Regions from separate parts of the Homo sapiens genome. Here regions 1, 2, 4, 5 and 6 are each linked to region 3. The links come from fine-mapping of genetic effects on gene expression. A gene starts in region 3. Each other region holds a variant in brackets. All regions are shown on one strand. Distances are from middle to middle.

Region 1 (4,071 bases), 57 kb after region 3:
AGAGTATACATTTTTAATACTTTTCCAAATTGCCTCTAAGCATTATATGAACTTTTTTTTTTTCACTTTTATTTTAGGTTCAGGGGTACATGTACAGGTTTGTTATATAGGTAAATTGCATGTCTCGGGGGTTTGTGTACAGATTATTTCGCCACCCAGGTAATCAGCATAGTACCTGATAGGTAGGTAGTTTTTCGAACCTTACCCTCCTCAACCTCCCCTGCCTCACTCTCAAGTAGACCCCAGTGTCTGTTGTTCCCTTAGTCGTGTCTGTATGTACTCAGTGTTTAGCTCCCACTTACAAGTGAGAATATGTGGTATTTGGTTTTCTGTTCCTGTATTAGTTTGCTTAGGGTAATGGCTTCTAGCTGCATCCATGTTGCTGCAAAGGACATGATCTCATTCTTTCTTATGGCTACATAGTATTCCATGGTGTATATGTACATATATATATATATATTTTTATTTTTATTTTTGAGACAGAGTCTTGCTCTGTCTCCCAGGCTGGCATGCATTGGCATGAACTCAGCTCACTGCAACCTCTACCTCCCCAGCTCAACCGATCCTCCCATCTCAGCCACCCTAGTAGCTGGGACTACAGATGTGTTCCACCACGCCCGGCCAAGTTTTTTGTTTTTTGTTTTTTGTGTTTTCTTTTTGTATTTTTTGTAAAGATGGGGTTTCACCATGTTGCCCAGGCTGGTCTTGAACTCCTGGGCTCAAGCAATCCACCCACCTTGGCCTCCCAGTACTGGGATTATAGGCATAAGCCACCACGCCTGGCCCACATTTTTTTAATCCAGTCTACTGTTGATGGACATTTAGATTGATCCTATGTCTTTGCTGTTGTGAATAGTGCTACAATGAACATACACATGCTTGCATCTTGTATGAATTTTTCCTCAACAACATGAGATTGACTGTTCCTACTCACTGGCCAACATAGGCTATGGTGAATCATTTTAAATCTTTCCAAATCTAATGAGGAAATAATATGTTAGTTTTTATTTCATTGCTTATTAGATATAGAACAACTTTTTGCATTTTTACTGTTTTTTTAACTCTACTTGTAAGCTAATGTGTTTGTATTTCTTTATAAATTGGCCATTTTCAAATTGTTTCTATTTTTTACTGATTATAAGAGCCCTTTATATTAATTATCTTTTCCTTTATGTTGCATTATTTTATTATTATTTTTTTGAGACAGGGTCTTGCTGCATCACCCAGGCTGGAGTGAAGTAGCAGAACCACAACTCACCACAGCCTTGACCTCCTAGGTTCAAATGATTCTCCTGCCTCAGTCTCCTGAGTAGCTAGGACTGTAGGCATCCACCACCATGCCGGACTAGTGTTTTTTATTTTTTATAGAGACAAAGTCTCGCTGTGTTGCCCAGGTTGGTCTTGAACTCTTAGGCTGAAACGATCCTGCTGTCTCAGCCTCCCAAAATGCTGGGATTACAGGAGTGATTCACCATGCCCAGACTGCACTATTTTTATATTTTTGACTTTGTTTTCAGTGTCTTCCTGTACAGACTCATGAAAATGTTTTTGTTGCCACACTTACTGTTTTACGACTTTCGGATTTTACACAATACCCTCCTCATTCTCAGATCATAATGTTATTCTTTCATGTTTTCTTCTGGGAGTTTTGCGATATATTTTTTATTTAAATTTATGTGGAATTTGGGGGCATAACATTGGAGAGATTGAATTTTTTTTTCTAAGTAGATAATATGGTTAAGCATTCTGCTATAGGTATTTCTTTTTTTTGAAACAGTCTTGCTCTGTCACCCAGGCTGGAGGGCAGTGGCGTGATCTTGGCTCACTGCAACCTCCGTCTCCTGGGTTTAAGCGATTCTCATGTCTCAGCCTCCCAAGTAGCTGGAATTACAGGTGCCCACCACCACAACCGGCTAATTTTTTTTGTATTTTTAGTAGAGACAGGGTTTTGCCATGTTGGTCAGTCTGGTCTCGAACTCCTGACCTTAAGCGATTCACCCGCCTCGGTCTCCCAAAGTGCTAAGATTACAGGCGTGAGCCACCACACCTGGCTGATGCTTCTTTTATCTAAAATTTTGACCAGTATTATTTTTCTCCTCCTTCTATATATAAACAGAGAAAACTAAAATAATTCCTGTGTTTTTACTTGTCTTCAGCTGATCGCCATACATTGCTCTCTGCCTAAGAACTGGAGGCTTTGCAGGACTTGGGGAGGCCAAGGAGGGCAGATCACCTGAGGTCAGGAGTTCAAGACCAGCCTGGCCAAAATGGTGAAACCCCACCTCTACTAAAAATACAAAAATTAGCTGGATGTGGTGGCATGCACCTGTAATCCCAGCTACTCAGGAGGCTGAGGCTGGAGAATCACTTGAATCCAGGAGGCGGAGGTTTCAGTGAGCAGAGATCACGCCACTGCACTCCTGCCTTGGCGACAGAGCAAGACTCTGTCTCAAAAAAAAAAAAACAAAAAAACTGGAGGCTTTGAGTCAGGACGTAATTTACTTCTG[T/C]AGGGAACATCTCCTGAATCTTGATTAGGTCGTATGCAGATTTTTTTCTTAGAAATTACTGAATGTGTAAGCACAGTCACAACCTTAGACTATCTTATTTGTGTTTGTGTTCTGTGTTTTTATTACCTTATCTCTTTTTCTGTCAAAATTGTTTTCTGCAAAGAGCAAAATCATGTACTTTTATAACTCCTTCCTCCAGTTACAAGCAATACAGAATACAAAATCAGATTTTATGATAGGGCCAGGCGTGGTGCTCACGCCTGTAATCCCAGCACTTTGGGAGGCCGAGGCAGGCGGATCACCTGAGGTCAGAAGTTCAAGACAAGCCTGGCCAACATGGTGAAACCCCGTCTCTACAAAAGTACAAAATTAGCCTGGCGTGATGGCGGGTGCTGGTAATCCGAGCTACTTGGGAGGCTGAGGCAGGAGAATTGCTTGAACCTTGGAGGTGGAGGCCTCAGTGAGGAGAGATCACACCATTGCACTCCAGCTTGGATGACAGAGGGAGACTCCATCTCAAAAAAAAAAAAAAGATTTTATGATAGGATGTCTCCCACCCCTATTAAGTATTCCCCAGACTTAATGTTGCTTAAATTTGGGGGAGTTTTTTTTAAGGACTTCATTTCAGGGCAGGTATTTTAAGTATGAAATCTGTAGTGTGGCAACAATGGTCTTCAAAGCATTTGTCTTTAACAAGGAAATTATGATCATCATTAATGGCAGTAGCAGCCAAGTTGTTTCCAGGCCCATTAACCACCATAAGAACCAACAGAGCCACAAGAACTTGGTTGTTTATGGACAACTGATGAAGTCAAACATGGAACAATTTCAACTGATTGTCAGGCTTGCTTAACACACAGACTTATACATGCCCCAGACGGGTGTATTTTTAACCCAGTACCAAAATAAAACTCTTTAACAAGCGTTTATTGAGTACGTCCTGGGTGAAAGGAAATGGAGCACGCACTGTGAAGTTTTTTTACGCCTTGCGTTTGTTTTTTTAGGAGGAGTATGTGTCTGTGATGGTTTATTCACACTCTCTCGCTCTGTCTTTTTTACGCATTTATTTCCGAATGACTCACTGGGATTAGAGATACAGTTTGATTCTGTATTTTTCGATAAACACACAGAAGCTAACTTAATGGCAGGGTATTTAACATGAGACACTGGTCATTTTATAAGGAAGCTAATGAACTGAGTTAGCCACCACCGTCCTTTAGTCAAGTTTCGATGGTTTTGAACATTTGTTACATTTTGGATTTCAATTCAAGGTGGCAATAATTCACCTATTTTGCCCTGCTTTTTTCTGCCCAACTCTAATTATGTCCTTTGCTATCTGAGGCATGGTTTCTGAATGAGAAATATATCTCTGCATTTCCGGAATAAAGTTAGGAAAGAGGAAGATGCGGTATAACTGTTCTTTTTTGTGCTCTGTAGATATGCAAAGCCTAGAGAAGCTATTGAAAGATGCCATTGTTTATGGTCAGCCTCGGACACGAAGGCCCTGGAAGAAAATTCTCATCCTTGTGGAAGGAATATATAGGTAATCCTGCTTTATTATTCT
Region 2 (4,089 bases), 97 kb after region 3:
TACTCTCTAGGGGCCTGGGATAGATCAGTGAATAAAATACAAACATCTCTGTCCTTGTGGAGCTTACAGTCTAGTAGGGGGCAACAGTCAGACAGACATAATAAACAAATGAACTGTGTACGATGTTAGAAGGTGTCAAGTGCTATGGAAAAAAATAGAGCAGGACCTATATGGGGAGTTGAGAGTGCCCTGTGGGCGGGCCGATAACACTATTAAATAGGGTGGTCAGGGTAAGGAAGCCTCCTTGGGAAGGAAAATGACATCTGAGCAAAGATTTGAAGGAGCTGACAGCCACTGGAGAAAGAAGCATCTGTGCAAAGGCCACAGTACAGAAGCGAGCTTGCTTAGCTGACGGAAGAGTAGCAAAGAGGTCCCTGGAATTGGAGCACCGTGCCCCAGGGCGAGCAGTGGGCCATGAGGTCAGAGAGGTTTTATCAGAGTGTGTTATTGGATACTTACCAGGTGTGCAGATTACACCAGCTTCTTTGGTTTGTATGAGGCATACATAATGGAAAGCCCTGCCCTAGGATAGCTTTCAATGTATTTGAGAAGTCCAGATGTATAATGAAACCAGAAGACATTTGAAAAGCAAATGAACAGTAATTATACTGAACAAATTTTATTATATGCAAAGTGGCCCTGAAGATGTAGAATAAAGGAGTGACCTGCTTAGTATAGGCTCAGTAAGAAAGGCACATCTTGTTGGATGGGTGAGTTTTGAGCTGGATCTTAAAGCATTTCTCCAGTTTGATTGAACTCATTGAAGGAGCAATTTTTGTAAATTTTTGAATCCCCAGTGTCCACCACAGTCTCCGACACTCAGTAAATGTTTACTGAAATGAATATGGGAGAGGAAATTAAATCAGGGAACCTGGAAGTAATGTGATTCAAAGAGAATGAAAGGGAAGTAAGGAAAAGGTGCTCCCTGAGAGAAAAAGAAGAATTTGGGTTTCAACATGAAGTCATATGGGCAGTTGGTATTATGGCTTCAGAGGGGATGGGGAAGGATTTTCTTCATTCTTCTTTAAGTGGAATTCTCATAAACAAACATGAAGAGTTATCAGATCCAAAGGACTCAGTCTAGAGCTCTCTTTAAAGAAGGCTGTGTCTCCTTTATTCTACATAGGTGCAACTGACTGTGTACACTTTAATTAGGAAAGATTTAGAGAAGGTACAGGACCCAAAAGGGCACAAAAAAGCAATAACTACTAAATATAAGGAAAACAACTCTGTATACAGCATGTATAAAGAAAAGCAAGGTATATTTGGGGAGATAAAAGTTGTAAAGGCATTAAGATGTGTGTTTGTTGAGAAAAAATAAATTTGTGCATTTAAGAAGTTAAAAAAAAAAGATTTAGAGAAGGTAAAGAATTAGAATAAGGCACTAGACAGTTTGGGAGCATGTGCTGAAGATACAGGGCACCCAGGTTCATGCTGACACAAAGGAGGTATGTTGAGGAAGATGTACTGGTACTACAGAGAGTGGGAAAAGGCTGTGAAAAGACTGGCATTAATGTAATGCCAAATGTGCAGGATCTGTATAGCCCAGGCTGGAGTGCAATGGCGTGATCTCGGCTTACTGCAACCTCCACCTCCCAGGTTCAAGCAAATCTTGTGCTTCCGCCTCCCCAGTAGCTGGGATTACAGATGTGTGCCACCACACCTGGCTAATTTTTGTATTTTTTAGTGGAGATGGGGTCTAACCATGTTGGCCAGGCTGGTCTCCAACTCCTGACCTCAGGTGATCTGCCCGCCTCGGCCTCCCAAAGTGCTGGGATTACAGGCACGAGCCACTGGCCCGGCCACATTTTTTTATTCTCAAACAAATGCTGTAAACAGCTTAAAGGAAAAGTTGAAACATAAGGGAGGTCAATAAGAGGAAAAGACAAAAAGCAACATAATTTGGGCCAGGCACAGTGGCTCACACCTGTAATCCCACTTTGGGAGGCCGAGGTGGGTGGATCACAAGGTCAGGAGATCGAGACCATCCTGGCCAACATGGTGAAACCCCGTCTCTACTAAAAATACGAAAATCATCTGGGTGTGGTGGTGCACACCTGTAATCCCAGCTGCTCGGGAGGCTGAGGCAGGAGAATTGCTAGAATCTGGGAGGTGGAGGTTATGGTGAGCCAAGATCGTGCCACTGCACTGCAGCCTGGCGACAAAGCGAGAGACTCAAAAAAAAACCCACATAATTTAGTAGACAAAATTAACTAAAAGTTAGAATGTGTTATTTAGACAAGATACAGATGTGGAGTAAGGCCACAGGGCCTCCAATTTGGCTTACGATAGGGGTGGGGGATTGTTAAATACGAATTGTGTGGTCTGAGTAATCAGCTGAAGCCAGC[G/A]GGTGAACTGGCCTGACAGACACCAAAGGAAGCCCTGAATTCTGAAGCAGTGTTGTTCCCAAGACAATTAAAGAAACGTGTGATCTGGAGAGCTCATGCCAGTCAGCCATTCTGCTAGCAGAAAAGATGTGCCGTGTTACAGCAGATCCCCCACAGCTGCAGAATCCTCAGAATTTGCGGATTAATGTTAAACTGCCAAGCTTAACATTTCAAGGACCAGATTTTAATTAAATACAGGTTCATTTTGAAGCCTCTGAACCACTATTACATATCAGGGACACTTTTTTTTTTTTTTGAGACAGAGCCTTGCTCTGTTGCTCAGGCTGGAGTACAGTCGTGTGATCTTGCCTTACTACAGCTTCTGCCTCCAAGCTTCGAGAGATTCTCATGCCTCAGCCTCCTGAGTAGCTGGGACTACAGGTGCATGCCACCACACATAGCTAATTTTTTGTATTTTTGGTAGAGACGGGATTTCACCATGTTGCCCAGGCTGGTTATTTCAGTTTTGTGAAGGACACCATATAGGAGAAGACTGCTTTAGGATTGACTTTAAAAGTATTTGTGAGCTGTCAATTTTAACTTTAAAAGGAGTTAAAGGAAACTCCTATTAGAAGTCTCCAATGCCTGCATCACCAAAGAGTTGAAATCTTTGAGGACAGCAGGTCCTCTGTAATGAGTGCTTTTTCACTCCTCCTGGTTTCTGTTCTTGTTTTCCCCTTTGCAGCGCCTTTGGACGGGAGATGCTGAAGCGGAACATCGGTGTCGTTGTGGTTGGATTTCCTGCCACCCCAATTATTGAGTCCAGAGCCAGGTTTTGCCTGTCAGCAGCTCATACCAAAGAAATACTTGATACTGTAAGTAGGCACTTTCACCTTGATATAAATATGCCTTTTATTAAAAGGGCCTGTATATTAGATGAAATTCATAATATATTGATCTTGATGTTCTTGTGAGCACCTAAGACAGAGGGGGTGACAGTGCTACCAAAAACATTGGCATTTACAAAAAAACTGTCACCCACCACACCTGCATCATGAGAGCTCTGGAGAATTTTCCGGCTTTGTCTTGCTCTACTGTCTCCCTCACTATGGACTCTACAATTCTCTTTCCACTCTAGCTATTTCTACATTAAGCTTTCTCATATGTTGTTCTGTCTAAAATTTTCTCTCTTGAGCTTTCTCTCCCCTCTGCCTGGCTGACTGCCACTCATTCTTCACATCTCCATTTAAAGGAAAATTGCTCAGGGGCGCCCCACACCTTCTTGCTCTGTGTTCCCTTGGAATCCTGAGATTCTCCCTTACTAAATTCTTCACACCTATAATTATTTAATAGCAGTCTTCTCCATTAGATAAATATTGAGGATAGGAATAAGTCTGTTTTACTGATTCTATATCCCAGCACCCACCACACTGCCAGGCATCTAGTTGGGGATCATTATTACTAAGCTTAATTATTTATTATCTCAAGATATTCTCATCTCTATATATTCTCTTAATATGTTATTGTTGCAAGTCTAAGATTTCAGAGTTTAAATCATTATTGCCATCTGGGAGTTTATAAAGCTTTAGAACATGACATTTGCATAAAATTAGTTGCTAGAAATATCCATTAATGAGTTAGAGAGCTACTAATTTTTTTTTTCTTTTTTGAGAGAGAGTTTTGCCCTTGTTGCCCAGGCTGGAGTGCAATGGCGTGATCTCAGCTCACCACATCCTCTGCCTCCTGGGTTCAAGCAATTCTG
Region 3 (4,089 bases):
CTCCTGTTGCCTAATCTCTCCAGCCTTAGGTTGGTCTTTAACTATTGTTTTCTTTCTATGTGTATATCTTGTCTCTCACTGAAATGTAAGCTCCATGAAGCACAGCCACATGTTTCCTTTTTAGCCTTATACATACAGATGTATATTCACTTTGGGATCAATAGTGTTTGTCAACTCAAATAGGATGTGTGGGATGAATGATCCCACCTTCTGTTAGATTATTCAGCTCCTAAGTCATGCAAAACCAATACCTTGTGGACCTCCTTTCTAAAGCTCCTGCAGGGTGGGGAAAGAATGCACGGATTCTCATAGGTGCATTTAGCAATTACTAGTAACCAACACTTAATGAATGCTTACTAATTGCTAGGTCCTGTACAAAATACATTACATACATAAACTTATTCAATCTTCACGACAACTATTATTGTCCCCACTGAACAGATGAAGACACATAGAGGTCACTCAGCTAGTAAGTGGCGCAGCTAGGATTTAAAACCCAGACCGACTCCAGAGTCCATACTCTCAATTATGATACTAAATTCTTTATGGATAACAGAAAGTCTCTAATTGTAATGTAGATCAATTTCCTTGCTTTCTAACCCCATGGGAAGATGGAACTAAAAGGGTGAGAAAATAATATTTATTATACTCCTACTATAAGCCTAGTATTATAAGAGGTGCATAATGGGTTAATGATATAATTCTTGCTGTAAGTCTATGAAGCAGGAAGTATTAACTCCATTTTAAAGAATTTGGCTTCTAAAGTGGTTAAACACAGTGCTCAAGTTTTAGCTTCCAGTTATTGGCAGAGTTGGAATTAGACCAGGTTTTCTAACTTTGAAGGAAAGACTTAATTTAAAGGAGACTGTATAGAAAACCCTGCCAAGGGCAAATGTGAAGGGCACGTGAAAAGGCATCTGAATTATTACTTATAATAATTCAGAAATAGTGAATGTGTGGCGCATATTGAAGAATGATGAGAGATTGTCAAAAAATCTATTCTATAAACACTCACAGAGGAATCAGCTAATTAAATAAGCGAGCTGCCTGTCTTGGGCTAGGACATAAACTCCAAAACTTCCCACGAGGCAAGGGCAAAGAGGGCGCCACCTGTCCTGGAGAACCTGGGAACCCGCTCTAGAGACTTCGGCTCAGCCCCTTTTATTTCCTCACACTCTAATTGGCTACTTTTCCCTGGGCTCCGCCTCCTCCTCGGTCTGGACCATTAAACAGGCAAGCCCTACCCCGGACCTGGATGCGGCCTCCAATCAGGTGCCAGGCCCTGGAGTCCCTCTAGAGAAGCCCCCTCTCCACCGGCGAGGCGCTTTGCTCTCGTCCGTGATTGGCCAGGCAGCAGCATGGGGTCCGCCTCCTTCTCTTCCAGATTGGTCAGCGGTCCTCAGGACCACATCCCTCTCGGCAGGTCCCCGCCGCTTTTTCCCTTCGCTGCGTGGCCTTGGCCGAGACCGGTCCTCTGCGGAGAGGGCCCCGCCCTCTGTGAAGGCCCGCCCGGGAATTGGCGGCGGCGCTGCAGCCATTTCCGGTTTCGGGGAGGTGGGTGGGGTGCGGAGCGGGACTTGGAGCAGCCGCCGCCGCTGCCACCGCCTACAGAGCCTGCCTTGCGCCTGGTGCTGCCAGGAAGATGCGGCCGGAGCCCGGAGGCTGCTGCTGCCGCCGCACGGTGCGGGCGAATGGCTGCGTGGCGAACGGGGAAGTACGGAACGGGTACGTGAGGAGCAGCGCTGCAGCCGCAGCCGCAGCCGCCGCCGGCCAGGTACGAGGGGCCCGCGCGGCGGGGCCGGGGTGGCGGTGTGGACTGGCGGAGGGGCGGCCGGGCGGGGCGAGGTCTCCGGGCCATCCGCTGGGCAATCCGCGGGGCGGGCGCCGTTCGCAGGTGTGGGCGGCAGTGTCCGGCCGCTGGCCCGACCTCCACGAGCCTGGAGGCTCAAGGACGGCTCGGGGGCTCCCCACCTCTCCGCGCCTGGAGGTCTTACTCCCGGAGCTCTGGGTTCTGCTCAGAGCTCCGGGTACTTTTCTCTGCCCCATTCTGCCAGAAGTGTGTGCTGTCCCCAGGGGAAGCGATGAGGGGCCCTTCGGACTCCAGTGGGAGCCGCCCAAGGGCTCCGGAGGGTCCCTTCTCAAACCCCTGAGGTTATTGCTTCCTTTTAAAGTCCTGCAGTCGTCCAAAGAAAACCACCCATGGGGTCCTTAAGAAGCAAAGAAAATTAGGCGGTGGTGTCAGATGGAAACACACCCAGCCTCTCCCAACCACATTCTGGACTACCACGTTCAGTCCCCAACCAGGACATTGGTCCATAGATCTGGCAGGGAATCCAAGCTGGTCCCTCGAAAGCATCATTCTCTTAACTCTGCCGGTGGTGAGACTCTACCCCAGGCTCCAGGTTGGATTAGGTGGCCCCTTCGACCCTTTCCTGAACACGAGTGCTATCACACAAGGGGATTGTTTAGCCTGGTGGTGACTTGCGATGACTCTATACTAATTAACCATGCTGAATCATCAACCAAGTTCAGGCAGTTCTAAAATATTTTGAAAAGTTCTAAATTCAAGACAATGCTTATTATCAACCTTACAGTGGTCTGGACTGACAGATATTCTGTTGAAATGTGTTTTTAAAGATGAGCTGGTTAAAAAGATGCAAGATCGGTGTTCCTGGAAGAGAGTGTTGCGATAATTTTGCAGTTGACTTTAATACGTTTAAGTCTTGTACAGATATTAAGGAACGCTTAGAAAGTACTCTGTTTCCCTTTAGCGGGAGTGTGACTGTTGCAGTTTGATAGGATGGTGATCTTAATTTGGCTTTAACATAACTACTCCCCAGATGAGTAGTTATGATGGATAGGTCTGTTACTGTTTGCTGCGAAGCAGAAAATAAAGCATTTTTCCAGGTCATGTTGAGATATTGAGACTGAGTTGAGGGGAAAAATAAGTAAAGCAGACTTGACCTCCCCTGAAGTTGTAAGGTGTCAAAGCGAAGTAATACACAGATCAAAAGATTTGTTTTCACTTTTAAAGAAATAATTGTGTGAGGGAGGAAGTGATAACAGTCAGCTCATTATAAGCAGTGGAATAGTTTGTCGTTTTCCTAGCAATGTAAACGACTTATAAGACAAAATTGTTGTGGTATAGAATGTAATAGGGAAATTTAACGGGTAGGAGTTAGAAAATACATTTGCAGGTGAATTTCATTGAGGTATGATTTTTTTTTTGTTTTTGTTTTTGTTTTTTTTTTTCAGACAGTTTTGCTCTTGTCACCCAGGCTGGAGTGCAATGGCGCGATCTCGGCTCACTGCAGCCTCCACCCCCTGGGTTCAAGCGATTCTCCTGCCCCAGCCTCCCGAGTAGCTGGGATTACAGGCGCCCGTCATCACGCCCGGCTAAATTTTGTATTTTTATTAGAGATGGGGTTTCACCATGTTGGCCAGGTTGGTCTCGAACTCCTGACCTCAGGTGATTGGCCTGCCTTGGCCTCCAAAAGTGCTGGGATTACAGGCGCACCAGGCCGAGGTATGATTTTTTTTGTTTTTTTGGTTTTTTTTGAGATGGAGTCTCGCTCTGTCGCCCAGGCTGGAGTGCAGTGGCGCGATCTCGGCTCACTGCAAGCTCTACCTCCCAGGTTCACGCCATTCTCCTGCCTCAGCCTCCCAAGTAGCTGGGCCTACAGGCACCCGCCACCACGCCCGGCTAATTTTTTGTATTTTTAGTAGATACGGGGTTTCACTGTGTTAGCCAGGATGGTCTTGATTTCCTGACCTCGTGATCCGCCTGCCTCGGCCTCCCAGAGTGCTGGGATTACGGGTGTGAGCCACTGCACCTGGCCGGTATGATTTTTTAAAATGAAAAAGGAAGTCAAGAGAAAGGTGTTCACACTTCAGCGTTGCTTTGTGTTCAAATGCTTCTTTCAATCCCTATGAGTTATGTTCAGATTTAGTAGGAAATCAAGGACCTTTCTCCCATAATCTCTAACAATTTAGCATTTATAGAATGATATTTCTTCAGAGCTTGCCAACTAATAAGGTGAAGAAATATCAAGGTACTAACATGACATTTTAAAATCTGTATGAATAACA
Region 4 (4,089 bases), 91 kb after region 3:
ACTGAAAAGCAATTGGTACACCTTAAATCTGTTTGGCAGTGATTAATGTAGTTCCCTAAATCTAATTCTGTTTTGTAAACGTGATTGAAGGTTATCAATATCTAGTGGTTATCAGTAGGTAGATAATTGTGGCGCTCCTTCAACCTCTACCCTCCATCCTTTTCAAGGCCTTCTAGTTCCTTAAGAGAACTAAATCTAGGCCTGGTGCGATGGATCAGTTGAGGGTCAGGAGTTTTAGACCAGCCTGGCCAACAAAGTGAAGCCCTGTCTCTACTAAAAATACAAAAAATTAGCCAGGCATGGTGGCACTTGCCTGTAATCCCAGCTACTCAGGAAGCTGAGGCAGGAGAATCGCTTGAGCCTGAGAGGCAGAGATTGCAGTGAGCTGAGATCGCACCACTGCACTGCAGCCTGGGCAACAGAGTGACACTCCATCTCAATTAAAAAAAAAAAAAAAGAGGCCGGGCGCAGTGGCTCACGCCTGTAATCCCAGCACTTTGGGAGGCCGAGGCAGGTGGATCATGAGGTCAGGAGATCGACATCATCCTGCCTAACATGGTGAAACCCCATCTCTACTAAAAATACAAAAAATTAGCCGGGTGTTGTGGCGGGTTGCTGCAGTCCCAGCTACTCGGGAGTCTGAGGCAGGAGAATGGCGTGAACCCAGGAGGCGGAGCTTGCAGTGAGCCAGGAGCACGCCACTGCACTCCAGCCTGGGCAACAGAGTGAGACTCTGTCTCAAAAAAAAAAAAAGAACTAAATAATCTAATGATGCTGTTACAGCATATTGATCTTTTATATCTATTCCTTCCTTCCTGAGAATAAGATTTATTGTAAAGAGGTTGAAGACTAAAAATGACCTGTTAAAGTTATCTACATTTTCCAAGAAATTAACTACATATTTACTTTTCTCTGTCTCTTCCATGCCAAGCTGTAGATTTTTTTACAGTAGAGTTCCTAAAAATAGTTTTATTCTAACAAACCATATTGAAGTCCAAAAGGACAGCCACACAGTTAAGTTTATTTGTAAAATTCAAGAGTCAGTACAGATTTTTCTCCTCCAAATTGCTTTTATGCTTTTTATCACCCTTAAAAGTAAAGATTTATGTTTGAAAAGTAGGAAAGAATTCTGACCTCTTTATATTTCCATCTGTGTTCTTTCGGAGCCAAAGATAAAAACTTCTTAAGAGCAGTATTTTTTTAAACAGTGCTAAACTTTCTTCTTTGTTTCAAGTCTGTATTAGACCAGATACTTGCTGAAACTCTGCAGTGAAAAATCCTTGGGACTGAGCTACTACACTGGCGTTAAATAGCAATTGGTCTTCTTGCATAAATATTAACTGCTATTTTATATGATACTCAAGTCAAAGTGGGTAACTATGTTGTCTGTTAAGATTCAGTTTCACTTTAAGAGCAAAGGATAACTATTTTCTAACGTGTAAATGCCAGGGCTTACTGATTTGTCTACATTTATTTTACTGCTTTTATTTTCCTGTTATTCTCTTTGAAATTAGTAAGTTAAACCATAAGAAATTTCCTGCTTTAAGGTCAAAAATGGTAGCATGTTGGCAGTTTGATGGTTCAGCCTAGCAATTTTAAAGGATAACAGGCCACTTTATTTTTATATATTTATTTATTTATTTGAGATGGAGTCTCTGTCACCCAGGCTGGAGTGCAATGGCATAATCTCGGCTCACTGCAAGCTCCGCCTCCTGGGTTCATGCCATTCTCTCGCCTCAGCCTCCCAGGTAGCTGGGACTACAGGCGCCCACCACCACGCCCGGCTAATTTTGTTTTTGCATTTTTAGTAGAGACGGGGTTTCACCGTGTTAGCCAGGATGGTCTCGATCTCCTGACCTTGTGATCCGCCCGCTTCAGCCTCCCAAAGTGCTGGGATTACAGGCGTGAGCCACCATGCCCAGCCCTCCTTTTTAAATTTTTTTAATTTTTCTTTTTTTTTTTCGAGACGGAGTTTCACTCTTATTGCCCAGGGCAGAGTGCAATGGCGCAGTCTCGCTCACGGCAACCTCTACCTCCCAGGTTCAAGCAATTCTCCTGCCTCAGCCTCCTGAGTAGCTGGGATTACAGGCATGCACCACCACACCTGGCTAATTTTGTATTTTTGGTAGAGATGGGATTTCTCCATTTGGTCAGGCTACTCTCAAACTCCCAACCTCAGGTGGTCCGCCTGTCTGGGCCTCCCAAAGTGCTGGGATTACAGGCGTGAGCCACCGTGCCTGGCTCATTTTTCGTAAGTGACAGAGTCTCACACTATGTTACCCAGGCTGGAGTGCAGTGGCTGTT[T/G]ACAGGTGCAGTCATAGCTCACTACAGCCCCAAACTCCTGACTCAAGAGATCCTCCTGCCTCAGCCCCCCAAGTAGCCAGAATCACACCACTGTGCCTGGCTTTCCTTTTTTTAAAAATTGATACATAATATTTATGGGGTACATATGATATTTTGATAGATGCATACGGTATCAAATATTCTGATCAAATCAGAGTATTTTGGATATGTGTCACCGCAAACATTATCATTTCTGTGTGTTTAGAACATTTCAGCTCTTCTAGCTATTTTGAAATACACGGTAAACTATTGTTAACTGTAGTCATCCTGTGCTATCAAAAGCTATAATTTATTCCTCCTATCTAACTATATGTTTGTACCCATTAACCAACCTCTCTTCAATCCCCCTTTCCCTACCATTCCCAGCCTCTGGTAACCACTGTTCTACTCTCTACCTCCATGAGATCAACTTTTTTAGCTCCCACATGAGTCAGAACATGCGATACGTGTCTTTCCGTGCCTGGCTCATTTCACTTAACATCATGACCTTCAGTCCCATCCATCTTGTGCAAATGACAGCATTTCATTCTTTTCATGGCTGGATAGTATTCCGTTGTGTGCATCTGCCACATTTTCTTTATCCATTCATCCGCTGATACTTAGAATGATTCCGTATTTGGCTCTTGTGAATAGTGCTGTAGTAAACATAGCTGTGCACACATCCCTTTGATACACTGATTTCCTTTTATTTGGATAAACAGCAGTAGTGGGATTGCTGGATTGTATGGTAGTTCCATTTTTAGTTTGAAAAAACTTTTTTTTTTTTTTTTAACAGAGGCTAGTTAATTTGTGATTAGATAGCTAAAAGGTTTGTGATTTTTTTTTAAAGGTGGTGGCTGGGCAGCATGGTGGCTCACTCCTGTAATCCCATGCCACAATCAAGGTTAGAATATTTTCATCGTCCCTCCTGGAAGTTCCCTTCTGCCCCTTTGCTATCAGCCGCCTTCCCATACTTTCTGGCAACCATGAATCTGTTTTCTGTCATTACAGTATGTCTTTTTAGAGTTTCATACAAACGAATTCATACAGTGTGCAGTCTCATGTCTGGCTTATTTCAATGAACATTATATTTTGAGATTCATCAGCATTGTTGCCTTAGCAATCATTTGTTCCTTTTCATATATTTCCTTTCTCTCCTCATGTTTCTTCTACCTTTTTGAACATATAGATCATATTTATAATGGCCTTTAACATCCATATCTGCTAATACTCCGTTATTTTTGGTCGGTTTTTATTGACTGACTTTTCCCCTGGTTGTACGTCATATTTTCCTGTTTCTTTGAATGCCTGGAATTTTAAAATTATATGTTGGACATTAATTTTACATTGCTAGTTTCTATATCTTGTTGTTTTCCTTTAGGTAATGTTGGACTTTGTTCTTGGAATCAGTAGGATCCTTTCAAAGCTTGCTTTTAAGGTTAGGGTGGGTTCAGACCAATTTTTAGTCTAGGGTTCATTTATCTCCACTACTAAGGTGATAGGAGTAGAGTCCCCTTCTGAGGACTCTGTTAGATAACCCACATATTATAAGATCTTTATATTTTGGTGGACAAAAATACAAACTATTCCCAGCTCCATGTGAGTGCAGGAATTGTTTGGCCTATTGCTTTCTGATGGATCTTTTCCCCAGCCTCTGCTAGTTTCTTTTCATGCGTATAGAAATCAGTACCCTTCCCAAAGTTCAAAGGGACCCTTCAGCAGATCTCTAAAGCTCTCTCATCGCACCCCACCTCCCTGCTCCTGTAC
Region 5 (4,078 bases), 100 kb after region 3:
ATGGGAAGCGCAAGGATATTGGCTCAGGGGAGCGGCAGGATGGCTGTCCTAGAGGATTCGGTTACTCAGCTCTATAATGAATACATGTTTTTCTCCTAGAAACCCACCTTACCTGTGATCTAGAGGTTCTGTGTAGACTGTTAATGAATGGCGATGCATGTAATGGCTGCCTGTCCCTAACATACCCAAATACCCCACACAAGAGTCAGCACTCATTAGAATGTCATCTTATATTCACATGACACCGATTTGTCTGAAATATTTGGAGTGGGATCAAAGGAAATCTTGTAATCTAGATCCCCTTGGGCTACTGAGGATTTCTTTTTCTATCTAATGATTACTTTTCTACATTGATGAAAAAATTCTAGATTCTTCTAAAGTTTATAAATGTCCATTACTTTGTGATCTTAGTCATGTGCACTTTTGTCTTATTATTATTATTTTGAGGCAGGGTCTCAGTCACCCAGGCTGGAGTACAGTGGCATGATCTTGGCTCACTGCAGCCTCCATCTCCCAGCCTCAAGGGATCGTCCCACCTCAGCCTCCAGCATAGCTGGGACTATGCCTGCCAATTTTTTTTTCTTTTAAGAGACGAGGTCTTACTATGTTGCCCAGGCTGGTCTCAAACTCCTGGGTTCAAGCAGTCCGCCTGCCTTGGCCTCCCAAAGTGCTGTGATTACAGGCTTGAGCCACCGTGTTCAGCCTTGACTTTTTTTTTTTTTTTTTTGAGACAGAGTTTTGCTCTTGTTGCCCAGGCTGGAGGGCAATGGCATGAACTCAACTCACCGCAGCCTCCGCCCCCTGGGTTCAAGCGATTCTCCTGCCTCAGCCTCCCGAGTAGCTGGGATTACAGGCATGTGCCACCACGCCCAGCTAATTTTGTATTTTCAGTAGAGACAGGGTTTCTCCATGTTGGTCAGGCTGATCTCAAACTCCCGACCTCAGGTGATCTGCCCATCTCAGCCTCCCAAAGTGCTGGAATTATACAGACATGAGCCACCGCGCCCGGCCAGCTTTGACTTTTGTCTTAAATTATTACATCTTGTCACAGAGGTCAGGTGAATAAATGGTCGATGGGTTCTCCCAGCTTAATTTCAGACTTAAATTGTTTCCATGTGGAGCTTTCACTTATACCTCTTCTCAGAGGTACCGCTGTTGTGATAGCACATTGACGTTCAGCTCTTATTTGCTTTTATATTTTTCACATTTTGAAATGAAGAATATTTTTTCTTGTGCTACAATACATCAGTAATACTGGTGGTTTTCTCTCTCCAAACACTGATTTTTTAAAAAAATGAAGTTTAAGATGCCAGGTGTGGTGGCTCATGCCTGTAATCCTAACACTTTGGGAGGCAGAGGTGGGTGGGTAACTTGGTGCCAGGAGTTCAAGACTAGCCTGGCCAACATGGCAAAACCCTGTCTGGACAAAAATTAGCTGGGTGTGATGGCACATGCCTGTAGTCCCAGCTACTCAAGAGGCTGAGGCAGAGAATCTCTTGAACCCAGGAGGCAGAGGCTGCAGTGAGCCGAGATGGTGCCACTGTACTCCAGCCTGGGTAATAAAGCAAGACTCTGTCTCAAAAAAAAAAAAAAAAAAAAAAAAAAAGTTGCTGGGTTCGTTGGCTTACGCCTATAATCCCAACACTTTGGGAGGCCAAGGTGGTGGATCACTTGAGGTTGGGAGTTCAAGACCAGCCTGGCCAACATGGTGAAACCCCATCTCTACTAAAAATACAAAAATTAGCTGAGCATGATGGCGGGCACCTGTAATCCCAGCTACTTGGGAGGCTGTGGCAGGAGAATCACTTGAACCTGGGAAGTGGAGGTTGCAGTGAGCTCGGAGGGCGCCACAGCACTCCAGCCTGAGCAACAGAGCGATACTCCATCTCAAAAACAAAAGGGAGAGATGACAAATTGTATTCGGTTTTGTAAGTTCAGAGTGCATATAACTTTTTCTACCAAGCATATCATACTTTGAATTATAGCCTTTATTCTGCATACCTGGCTATTCACAACCCATTATTCATGGTGAGCTTGAAGGCCTTGTTCAAAAAGCAGCTCCTTCCACAGCTGTATTGTAGTCTGATCTTGTAAATGCACTAGACATAAGTCCTGCCGAAGGATAATCTTGCCATGATTGTTTTTAGCAAAGTAAAACACCAGGCATGCCTGCATCCTACTGGCTCTGACAGACCTCTACTTTGTCTTGTGTATTTTAGGCTTTAAAGGAGATAGATGAAGTTGGGGACCTATTGCAGCTGAAGTATTCCCGTCATCGGTTGGTACCTCTACTGGACAGGCCCTTTGACGAGACGACGTATGAAGAAACAGAAGACTGAGCCTT[T/G]TTGGTGCTCCCTCAGAGGAACTCTCCCTCACCCAGGACAGCCTGTGGCCTTTGTGAGCCAGTTCCAGGAACCACACTTCTGTGGCCATCTCACGTGAAAGACATTGCCTCAGCTACTGAAGGTGGCCACCTCCACTCTAAATGACATTTTGTAAATAGTAAAAAACTGCTTCTAATCCTTCCTTTGCTAAATCTCACCTTTAAAAACGAAGGTGACTCACTTTGCTTTTTCAGTCCATTAAAAAAACATTTTATTTTGCAACCATTCTACTTGTGAAATCACGCTGACCCTAGCCTGTCTCTGGCTAACCACACAGGCCATTCCCCTCTCCCAGCACCTTGCAGACTTGGGCCCATCAAGAGCTACTGCTGGCCCTGGCTCCGCAGCCTGGATACTTACCTGGCCCTCCTCCCTAGGGAGCAAGTGCCTTCCACTTACTTCCCATCCAGGTCTCAGAGGTCTCAAGGCCAACCTTGGAATCCTTATTTAACCATTCAAGTAATCAACGGAAGTTTTCACCCTTTAATCTTAAGTTTAGCCTTTTAAGAAAAACAGTAAGCGATGACTGCTGAAAGGCTCATTGTGTAATCTCCCAAGGGTTTGGTCTTATTCCATTTTCTTCTGGTCACCAGATGATTTCTTCCTTTACCATCAAATACTTCTTCATAATGGTCACAGTCTGAGGATGTGCGCAAATTCTGGTTCTTCCCAAGCTCTAACCGTAACACGTCCCACCCCCTTTTTAAAGCACTTACTGTTTTCAGAGCACCCATATCCCACCCTGGTGAGAAGGCCACTCTCACATCTGAGTGTTGGGTACAAAGCTGCTCCGTAGAGTGATGTGCACTCCTGGTGGGTGAGGGGCAGGGGCAGTGGCAGTGTGCAAAGAATTGATTACTCCTTGCAGAGCCTGTGGCTTGCATTTCCTACTGCTTTCTACGTTTGAAAATTATGACAGTCTCTGGCTAGGTCTGGGTCCAGATTAGGATTTAAACTGATAAAGGAAACTGTTGGTAAATCCTCTGCTCAGAAAGCATTTATCATGTTCCTATTTAAGGATTAGGTTTATTAATTTAGGCCTCTTAGAAGCTAACCCACTTAAATATTACTCTTCTGAATGCTAGTTCTCTTTTATTCTTGATGTCCTAAGTCAATTGAATCTGGCATCTGGGGCTAGGGTCTGCCTGTCTACATATTTTTTATTTTTTTCTGAGAAATTCTGAACACATAGATCTCTTTCCTAAACTGACATTTTCTATTTTGACTGTTTTCATACTATAACCAGGTAAAGGGACTTCTTTCAGAGAGCTTTATACTGCCTGACCAAAGAACAAATCTGAAAATCACCATTTTAAAGTTATTTTTTCAGTTGAACCAAAGTTTAAGTGAAGAGGACTTTTGGCATATTATACCCAGGATCAGTTTGTCTTTTTGTATCCATCAAGTATTACAGGAGAAGGATTGGGAACAGAATGGAAAAACAGTGTATGAAAGTCATGTTACAGGCCGAGTGCGGTGGCTCACACCTGTAATCCTAGCACTTTGGGAGGCTGAGGCAGGTGGCTCACTTGAGGTCAGGAATTCAAGACCAGCCTGGCCAACATGGTGAAACCCCGTCTCTACTAAAAAGACAAAAAATTAGCTGGGCGTGGTGGCGGGCACCTATAATCCCACCTACTTGGTAGGCTGAGGCAGGAGAATCGCTTGAACCCAGGAGGCGGAGGTTGCAGTGA
Region 6 (4,085 bases), 110 kb after region 3:
TTCCTTCTTATTGGTGAAAACCAGGGGGATGAGTGGCTTCCATGGAGAGATTTCCTGATTTCTCAGGGAGGAAAAAAGTGATGACATTTACCACTACTTTTATGTTTTTCCCCTTTTTCCAAATTGATAAGGATTTCTGGTTCCTAGTGATCCGGGATTGGGCAACAGTGCAGAACTGCCAGTCATGCCGTAGGCCGTGAAGAAAGAATGTGAGTAACTGTTGTTTTGCAAGGATTTGTAGGGTTATGGGCAGTTGTTGTTTGAAGCATTGCTATGACCTAATTCCCAAGGTATCTTTCCTCTCTTGGTGTTCTAGGTAAGCCAATGAGCTTTAATCTCTACTTGCTATAACCGTGTGCTTAGAAAAAGAGGTGAGAGTAGTGGTTTTCCTTCAAACTGTCCACATTCATGAAGATTATGAATTGTTAGGACAGCCAGGGCAAGATAGACCCTGTCTCTACAAAAATTTTTTTCTAAATTAACCGGGCATGGTGGTGCCTGCCTGTAGTCCCACCTGTGTGGGAGAATCACTTGAGCCTGGGAGGTCAAGGCTGCAGTGAGCCATGATTGCACCCCTGCACTCCAGCCTGGGTGACAGAGTGAGACCCTGGCTCAATAAGAGGGGGAAAAAAAATTGTTAGGAGCTGGGTGCGGATGCAGCCTGCAATCCCAGCTACTTGAGAGGCTGAGGCCGGAGGATTGCTTAAACCCAAGAATTTGAGCGTAGCCTGGGCAACACAGCAAGACCCCATCTAAGAAAAAAATGTTTTTTAAATCAGCTTAGCCCAAAGGGGTTGTGAATGGGGAGGTATAAAAAGCAAAGATTATTTTTTGGCTACTAAGCCAAGAACTTACAGGGATTTTTTTTTTCAGTCCCAGAACCTACAGATACCCTGCTACTTGCTTCACGTGGATGCTCAGTGCCCAGCAGCCATCTTAATACATTAAACCAGTTTAAAAAATACCTTCCATGTGGAGAAAAACATGTCTTTTTCTCGCCTCAACTTTATCCACATGAAATATGTGCCCATGGCTGGGCGCAGTGGCTCACCTGTAATCCCAACACTTTGGGAGGCTGAAGCAGGCAGATTGCTTGAGGCCAGGAGTTCGAGAACAGTCTGGCCAACATGGCGAAACCTCATCTCTACTAAAATTACAAAAATTAGCCGGGCATGGTGGCACATGCCTGTAATCCCAGCTACGTCAGGAGGCTGAGGCACAGGAATTGCTTGAACCCAAGAGGCAGAGGATGCAATGAGCCAAGATCACACCACTGCACTCCAGCCTTGGCGACAGAGGGAGACTCTGTCTCAAAAAAAAAAAAAAAAGGTGTGCCCAGGCCCCTAGCCATTGCCATGTGCCCAGCCAGAGAGCCAAATTAGAGGGCTGGCTTCCCTATCACACAGAATAAATGCTAGTGCTAGCCAATGATCCCTTTGCTTTTAATGTATAGAAAATACTGTTGTTCCTTTTGTCATTTCCAGTGACATCTGTTTTCTAAGCAGCTCTTTTCTAGGGAGGAAACCAAAGGGGCTAGGTTAAGACCCTAATAGAAATGTTTTTTCTAATCTCTGGTGAGTCTGGAAGTGTCACATTCACAGTCCACCCTTGGGAGTGGCTTGGTGGAGCTGGGGACAAGGTTTTGTTTACTACATAGTGCACATGATAAATGGCCTTAAACTGTGATTCTTTCTGGTAGGATAAGTTATAATAAACTGACCCTAAAGAATGCAATGGCTTTTAAACTGCAGTTACTGTGTTCTTAATGAAGCAATACCCAAAGCTCTGTTCTTTTGGAGCACTTGAGGGGAGCTTGAATGAAAGGTGCAGATAAGAGCAGTACCTTGATCTTATGCTTTCTGAGTGTCCTGCCTTGTTGCCATCTGCATGGATGAGTGAATGCTTCT[A/G]TGCACGAGGAGACTCAAGCCAACTCAGAGTCTGCTTTTTCCAACGCTCTTCCCAGGTTTCTTTTGCAAAGCTTGGTCATTTGGCCCAGGTCTTCCTGGAAAGTGGAGTACATGTCACTGACTAGGGTGGCGTGGTGTCTTTACCCTTAACATTAAGTCTTGTTACCTCAGTGATGTGAAGCCAATGGTTGGAATTATAAAAAGCATCCTTGCTGGTTCTTCACAGGACACTGGAACCCACCCTGTCAATTCAGCTAGCATGTCCACACAGTCTTGATGATCCCTCTCTGTAACAGGCAGCTAACATTAAGAGAAGGGGGAAAGAGAAGAAGAGAGCAATAGCTTATGGGAGAGCTGAGATCTTACTTCGTTGACCCATATTTTTCCCCTGACCAAGTTACCTGTAAACTGGAATTTGCAAGGGGATGCTGTGATGATAACCCCTTTCTATTGCTGTAATGTTCATATAACCTGGGAAACTGAGAGAAGGGGATGTGTAAATAAAAGCTTAAACATTTTAGTAATGTGTTAAAATGTCACTCTCTCTTACCCTGTTTCCCTTTTTTGCCAGATGATGATTTTTTTATTTTTATTTTGTACTTTACTGGATGACTGTGAAGCGATGAGTATTGGGTTGGGGTAGGTGTGTTGATTTTGAGAGTGCATGTTAAGAACTGAAGGGGAACTACTTGAGATGACTTAAGAAGCATCCCATGCAAATATCTTGTTTTGCCCTAATAAAATATTCAGAAAGATATATCTGCCTTTATTCATTCAACCAATACATATTGAGTGCTATCTCTCTGATGGGCAGCACACTGAGCTTTGTGGTTCCTACTTGCTAGTAAACAGATAAGCACATGAACATACATGTCATTTTACAAACTGTTAAGTGCTATGGAGGAAAAGTAAAGAGCTTGGTAAAAGTAACCAGGCCGGGCGCGGTGGCTCACGCCTATAATCCTAGCACTTCAGGTGGATCACTTGAGGTCAGGAGTTTGAAACCAGCCTGGCCAACATGGCGAAATCCCGTCTCTACTAAAAATACAAAAATTAACCAGGCATGGTGGCACGTGCCTATAATTCCAGCTATTTGGGAGGCTGAGGCACGAGAATCGCTTGAACCTGGAGGCAGAGGTTATAGTGAGCTAAGATCACACCACTGCACTCCAGCCTGGGCAATAGAGCAAGACTGTCTCAAAAAAAAAAAAAAAAGACAGTAACCATGATCTGGTTTAGACAGGGGTGAGAGAGAAAACTGAGGACGTGGAGGGTCTGAAATAAAGTACAGTTGGAGCTTGATTAAAAACTGTGTGGGGAGGTGAGGTAGTGGGGAGGTGGTAGAGGCAGACTCACTGGGCTTTGTAGATCTTGGTGAGGTCTTTCTCTTATGCAGGGGGTGGGGGTCAGACTAGTGAAAGGGCTGGGTTTTTAAAAAATTTTTTAAATTATTACCTAAAGTGGAGACAGAGTTTCACTGTGTTGCCCAGTCTCGAATTCCTGGCCTCAAGCAATCCTCCCGTCTCAGCCTCCTGACATACTGGGATGACAGGCATGAGCTGCCACACCCGGCCCAGTGAGGAGTTTAAAGTATGGAAACAGATAACTCTCAGTGTTTTTGTAGACATGGACAATTTGATAAAGTTTATATGGAAATCTAAAGGACCTAGAATAGTCCAAACGATTTTGGAAAAGAACTTACACTACCTGATTTCAAGACTTTCTGTAAAGCTACAGTAATCAAGACACTACTGTTGGCATTAAGATAGTCATGTAGATCAGTAAAACATACTAGAGTCCAGAAATAGACCCACACATAGAAGGTTGGTTGATTTTCAACAGAGTTGCCAAGGTAGTTCCAGTGGGGAAAGTACAGATAATTCAACTAATGGTCCCAGAACAACTAAATATCCATATGGGCAGAAATGACCTTCAACCCTTAACTCATAGATATACAATAATTCAAAATAAATCACCTGAACACAAAAATTAAAACTATAAAATGTCTAGAAGAAAACAGAAGAGAAAATCTGTGACTTTAGGAATGATTTCTGAGGACACAAAAAGCATTATTGATAAGTTGGACTTGATCAAAATGAAAATTTCAAAAGACTGAAAATGAAAAGCAAACCCCAGGCTGGAGTAAAAGATTCAGAATACATGTATTTGATAAAGGCT

Evidence for each region. PIP is the estimated chance that this variant, and not a neighbour inherited with it, causes the effect.
Region 1: its variant is the best candidate, but not a certain one, in a credible set for the expression of SPTLC2 in whole blood (TOPMed, PIP 0.87).
Region 2: its variant is the best candidate, but not a certain one, in a credible set for the expression of SPTLC2 in tibial nerve (GTEx, PIP 0.54).
Region 4: its variant is the best candidate, but not a certain one, in a credible set for the expression of SPTLC2 in whole blood (INTERVAL, PIP 0.75).
Region 5: its variant is the best candidate, but not a certain one, in a credible set for the expression of SPTLC2 in whole blood (INTERVAL, PIP 0.63).
Region 6: its variant is the best candidate, but not a certain one, in a credible set for the expression of SPTLC2 in lung (TOPMed, PIP 0.52).

Annotation. Positions count from the first base shown.
Region 1 is chr14:77,557,020-77,561,090 of GRCh38, reverse strand. It overlaps SPTLC2 (serine palmitoyltransferase long chain base subunit 2), which reads left to right. Exons shown (of 12, transcript NM_004863.4): 7 at 3,945-4,050. Among named protein-coding and RNA genes, the nearest start is that of SPTLC2, 58 kb to the left of the region's middle. The variant T/C (reference allele first, on the strand shown) is at 2,508.
Region 2 is chr14:77,517,151-77,521,239 of GRCh38, reverse strand. SPTLC2 (serine palmitoyltransferase long chain base subunit 2) reads left to right here. Exons shown (of 12, transcript NM_004863.4): 11 at 3,073-3,202. Among named protein-coding and RNA genes, the nearest start is that of ISM2, 20 kb to the right of the region's middle. The variant G/A (reference allele first, on the strand shown) is at 2,349.
Region 3 is chr14:77,614,133-77,618,221 of GRCh38, reverse strand. SPTLC2 (serine palmitoyltransferase long chain base subunit 2) reads left to right here and starts at 1,585. Exons shown (of 12, transcript NM_004863.4): 1 at 1,585-1,774. The coding sequence starts at 1,643. RefSeq lists silencers at 1,159-1,218, 1,549-1,598, 1,739-1,938 and enhancers at 1,258-1,790, 2,119-2,328.
Region 4 is chr14:77,523,464-77,527,552 of GRCh38, reverse strand. The region is part of intron 9 of SPTLC2 (serine palmitoyltransferase long chain base subunit 2); the gene reads left to right. Among named protein-coding and RNA genes, the nearest start is that of ISM2, 27 kb to the right of the region's middle. The variant T/G (reference allele first, on the strand shown) is at 2,305.
Region 5 is chr14:77,510,545-77,514,622 of GRCh38, reverse strand. SPTLC2 (serine palmitoyltransferase long chain base subunit 2) reads left to right here. Exons shown (of 12, transcript NM_004863.4): 12 at 2,220-4,078. The coding sequence ends at 2,339. Among named protein-coding and RNA genes, the nearest start is that of ISM2, 14 kb to the right of the region's middle. The variant T/G (reference allele first, on the strand shown) is at 2,345.
Region 6 is chr14:77,504,576-77,508,660 of GRCh38, reverse strand. SPTLC2 (serine palmitoyltransferase long chain base subunit 2) reads left to right here. Exons shown (of 12, transcript NM_004863.4): 12 at 1-2,664. Among named protein-coding and RNA genes, the nearest start is that of ISM2, 7.8 kb to the right of the region's middle. The variant A/G (reference allele first, on the strand shown) is at 1,908.